2 separate regions of the Homo sapiens genome follow, and region 1 is linked to region 2. A link means that fine-mapping ties the variant in region 2 to the expression of a gene that starts in the linked region. Tissue or cell type: whole blood. Region 2 holds a variant in brackets; the other region holds the start of a gene. All regions are shown on one strand. Distances are from middle to middle.

The links. PIP is the estimated chance that this variant, and not a neighbour inherited with it, causes the effect.
Region 1: OSCAR starts here. The variant in region 2 is fine-mapped to the expression of OSCAR in whole blood (INTERVAL, PIP 0.94).

Annotation. Positions count from the first base shown.
Region 1 is chr19:54,099,626-54,102,125 of GRCh38, reverse strand. OSCAR (osteoclast associated Ig-like receptor) reads left to right here and starts at 1,323. Exons shown (of 5, transcript NM_133169.6): 1 at 1,323-1,370; 2 at 2,346-2,378. The coding sequence starts at 1,334.
Region 2 is chr19:54,079,112-54,081,867 of GRCh38, reverse strand. It overlaps TARM1 (T cell-interacting, activating receptor on myeloid cells 1), which reads left to right and starts at 503. Exons shown (of 5, transcript NM_001135686.3): 1 at 503-561. The coding sequence starts at 528. The variant CCCTT/T (reference allele first, on the strand shown) is at 1,372.

The DNA.
Region 1 (2,500 bases), 20 kb before region 2:
CAGCTACTGGGGAGGCTAAGGCAGGAGAATGGCGTGAACCCGGGAGGCGGAGCTTGCAGTGAGCCGAGATCACACCACTGCACTCCAGCCTGGGCGACAGAGCGAGACTCCGTCTCAAAAAAAAAGAAACTGACCTGGTCTTGGTCTTTCAGTCGGACTGGTAGCTGCTGCTTGAGAGCAGTAACGGAGTCTGAGTTCCCTCTGTGCCTGCCAACATGGCACAGCGAGGGTCTGGCACGTAATAGGTTCTAATTTTTTTTTTTTTCTTCTGAGATTGAGTCTAGCTCTGTCGCCCAGGCTGGAGTGCAATGGCGCGATCTCGGCTCACAGCAACCTCCGACTCCCGAGTTCAAGCGATTCTCCTGCCTCAGCCTCCTGAATAGCTGGGATTACAGGCGCGCGCCTCCACAGCCGGCTAATTTTTCTTTTTTAGGAGAGACGGGGGTTTCTCCATGTTGGTCAGGCTGGTCTCGAACTTCCCGACCTCAGGTGATCCACCCGCCTTGGCCTCCCAAAGTGCTGGGATTACAGGCGTGAACAACCGCGCCCGGCCTAGAGGGGCTAATTTTTATCTATCTATCTATCTAACACAGTATCACACCAAGAGCCTGGCACATAATAGGTGCTAATTTTTCTCTGTCAACCAATCTATCAATCGATCAATTAATCACAGCAAGGGCCTGGCACATAATTGGTGTTAATTTTTATCTATCCATCAATCAATCACAGCAAGGGCCTGGCACTTAACAGGTGCTAATTTTTATCTATCTATCTATCTATCTATCTATCTATCTATCCATCCATCCATCTATCTATCTTTCAATCACAGCAAGGGCCTGGCACATAATAGGTGCAAATTTTTATCTATCTGTCAATCAATGACAGCAAGAGTCTGGCACATAATAGGTTCTTATTTTTAAAACAGACAGATATCTTTCTATCTGTCTATCTATATTTAAAGACATGGTCTCACTCTATCACCCAGGCTGGAGTGCAGTGGCACAATTTATTTATTTATTTTTTAGACAGGGTCTCGCTCTGTTGCCCAGGCTGCTCTTGAACTCTTGGGCTCAAGCGATCCTCCTGCCTCCACCTCCTGACTAGTATTTGTTTCTAGAGTTAAATAAATGAACACCACAGGTTATGACTGAACCCCCTGCTAATTTTTCCACAGTGCCATAGGGCTATGACACAGTCACCCACAGGCCCCCACCTCGATACTCTCTTCCGTAAATGAGGATCTGGGTCTGGTTTTCTGATGTTGCCTCATTTCCTGGGAGGGGAGAGGGTGCGACCAAGCCCTGGCTCCAGCTCTAGCGGGTATCTGCCCACCATGGCCCTGGTGCTGATCCTCCAGCTGCTGACCCTCTGTGAGTCACCCCTTTCTTCTCCCTGGGTTCCTGGCTGGGGTTGGGGGCAGAGAGAGAGGCAATGGAGACCCAGACACCCTGCAGGGGGACCAGGCAGCAGGTTTGGGATTCTAGGTTCAAATAAAGAACAGGGCTGGGGCCCAGACCCCTGGGTCCTAAAGCAAGAGAACACAGATTCCCGAAAGAGGAAGGAGGTGGGGACAGGTATCTCTGGTTCTTGAGGCAGGAAGAGGTCAGGAGACAGGGAGGACTCCCAGATTCTTATATGGGAGGGGGATGGAAGCCAGGACTCCTGATTCCCTGGGAAAAGGGGGCTGGGAACAGGGCTCTTAGCTCCTGAGAGAAGAGGGAAATGGGGACCCAGATTCCTGAACTCGTGAGAGGAGAAACTCTACGATCATTGTTCCCTGGAAAGGTGGAGTTCAAGGGCCTGAACTCTTGGTTGCCCAGGCCAGAGGGGTCTGCGTTCAGACTTCTTCGGTAGGTGGGCAATGGATGTCCAAATTTCTGCCTACTGAGACAGGAGGAGGGAGGGATAAGATTCTCATTTCCCAGAGGAGATAGGAGCTGGGAACTCAGATTCCTGGGTTACCAATGAGATGGGGCTGGCCACAAAGGGTTTTGAAAAGAACTCGCTGTTGGGCGCAGCGGCTCATGCCTGTGGGAGCCGAGGCCCAGCACTTTGGGAGGCCGAGGCGGGTGGATCACCTGAGGACAGGAGTTCAAGACCAGCCTGACCAACATGGCGAAACCCCTCTCTACTAAAAATACAAAGATTAGCCTGGTGTGGTGGCGGGCACTTGTAGTCCCAGCTACTACGGAGGCTGAGGCAGGAGAATCACTTGAACCTGGGAGGCAGAGGTTGCAGTGAGCTGAGATCACACCACTACACTCCAGCCTGGGCGACAGAGTGAGACTCTGCCTCAGACAAAAAAAAAAAAAGGAAAAAGAAACTAGTCCCTCAACCTCCTACAGGGCCTCTGTGTCACACAGACATCACTCCGTCTGGTGAGTAGCCACCCCATCCACTCTCCTTTTGTTGCTGACACCCCTTTTCCAATTACTCAGATTTTATTTTGGTGCCCAATCCCATCCCAGATATCCTTATTTTCCTCCCTCCCTCCATTCCT
Region 2 (2,756 bases):
GAAACCTCATCTTAACTAAAAATACAAACATTAGCCGGGCATGGTGGCATGCGCCTATAATCCCAGCTACTTGGGAGGCTGAGGCCGGAGAATTGCTTGAACCCAGGAGGCTGAAGTTGCAATGACCTGAGATCGTGCCACTGGACTCCAGCCCAGGTAACAGAACCAGACACCATCTCAAAAAAAAAAAAAAGAGTGAAGTGCTTTCATCTCTTCAATACGAACCCTTCAGGGCCAAGTCTGAAGCATTTTCGGGGTTACCTGTTTGATGCCTGAAATCTGCCTGAGACAGAGGAGCATTTCCTGTGAGTCAAGTGCTCGAACACTGGTGTGTGTAAGGAGCATGTTGCAATCAGCAACATCAACATGTTTCCTGAATGTGGATATGGGAGGGGAAACTGAAAGGCTAGGAAAGGCTGTTACTGCCCACACTCTGGGGTGGGAGAGAGGCAGCGACGACTCCAGCTCTTCTCCCATCTGTGGACTGCAGAACCCAAGACGGACTCTGGGAGGGCTAAGGAGCCATCATGATCCCTAAGCTGCTTTCCCTCCTCTGTTTCAGTAAGTCTCACAGGGCTATCCACTGGGACTGCAGAAAATCATGGAACTGGTGGGATAGTTGGGCTGGGGATGGAAATAATAACATCAACTTTGGCTTACTGAGCACACGGGAGGAGTGAGACGTCCTGCTGAGTGCACTGCAGACATTCCCTGGAAACGAGTGCTCTGCAAACTTCAACTCCTGTAGTTTCAACTTCGTGAGTTTTGCTGAATGCCTCCACCACCTGGCTTCATTGGCTTACCCCTTTTCTCAGGATCAACTCTGACTTTTTGTGTGTAAGTAAAAGTATTCAGAATAGAAACCTTATTTTATTTTATTTTATTTTATTTTTTTGAGACAGGGTTTTGCTCTTGTTGCCCAGGCTGTAGTGCAATGGCGTGATCTCGGCTCACCACAACCTCTGCCTCCCGGGTTCAAGCGATTCTCCTGCTTCAGCCTCCTGAGTAACTGGATTACAGGGGTGCGCCACCATGCCTGGTTAATTTTTGTATTTTTAGTAGAGACGGTGTTTCACCATGTTGGCCAGGCTGGTCTCGAACTCCCGACCTCAGGTGATCTGCCCACCTCAGTCTCTCAAAGTGCTGGGATTACAGATGTGAGCCACTGTGCCTGGCCCAGAAACCTTAATACCATAAATAAAAATTTAGTGTCAAATAGATAACTATAAAGTAAATTGAGGCCGCTGTGTAACCATCACCACTATCTACACTAAAACCTCTTTCTTTCTTCCTTCCTTCCTTCCTTTCTTTCTTTTTCTCCTTCCCTTCCTTCCTTCCTTCCTTCCTTCCTTCCTTCCTTCCTTCCTTCCT[CCCTT/T]CCTTCCTCTCTCTCTCTTTCTTTTTTTTTTTTTTGAGATGGAGTCTCGCTCTGTCGCCCAGGCTGGAGTGCAGTGGTGCGATCTCTGCTCACTGCAAGCTCCGCCTCCCGGGTTCACGCCATTCTCCTGCCTCAGCCTCCCGAGTAGCTGGGACTACAGGCGCCCGCCACCATGCCCGGCTTTTTTCGTAGGTTTCACTGTGTTAGCCAGGATGGTCTCCATCTCCTGACTTCTTGATCTGCCCGCCTCGGCCTCCCAAAGTGCTGGGATTACAGGCGTGAGCCCCCGCTTGCTTGCCTGCTTGCTTGCTTGCTTGCTTGCTTGCTTGCTTGCTTGCTTGCTTGCTTGCTTTCTTCCTTCCTTCCTTCCTTCCTTCCTTCCTTCCTTCCTTCCTTCCTTTCTTTCTCTTTCTCCTTCATTCCTTCCTTCCTCTCTCTCTTTCCCTTCCTTCCTTCCTTCCTTCCTTCCTTCCCTCCTTTTCCTTTTTTTGAGACAAAGTCTCACTCTGTACCCAGGCTGGAGTGCAGTGGTATGACCACAGCTCACTGCAGCCTCCACCTCCTGGGCTCAAGCAATTCTCCTGCCTCAGCCTCCTGGGTAGCTGAGATTACAGGTGCCCACCACACACCCGGCTGATTTTTTGTACTTTTTAGTAGAGACGGGGTTTCATCATGTTGGCCAGGCTGGTCTTGAGCTCCCTCAGGTGATCACCTCAGGTGATCTGCCCGCCTCAGCCTCAGCCTCCCAAAGTGCTGGGATTACAGGCGTGAGCCACAGTGCCCCGTGTAATTTTTAAATTTTTTGTAGAGACGGGATCTCACTATGTTACTCAGGCTGGTCTCAAACTCCTGGCCTCAAGCAGCCCTTCTGCCTTGGCCTCCCAAAGTGCTGGGATTACAGGCGTGAGCCACTGTGGTGGCTCTGCCACCTTTTTCTCCCATCCTGGCCCTCAGCAGAATACCCACCTCCATTAGGAAGGCCAACCTGCCCGACTCAGCATTAGATTCAAATGCTGATCTTTCTAAAAACACCCTCACAGACACGCCCAGAAATAATGTTTAACCAGATATCCCAGCATCCTGTGGCCTGGTCTAGCTGATAAATCAAATTAACAATCACAATTCCCAATATGAACGCTACACCCTCTAACCAATAACTCTGTATTTGCCGCGGTCCTCCCAGCCCCTGGTAACCTCCATTCTAATTTCTTTTTTTTTTTTTTTTTTCGGAGATGGAGTCTTGCTTCGTCACCCAGGCTGGAGTACAGTGGCCTAATCTCAGCTCACTGCAACCTCCGCCTCCTGGGTTCAAGCGATTCTCCTGCCTCTCCCTCCCGAGTAGCTGGGATCACTGGCGCTCACCACCATGCCTGGCTAAGTT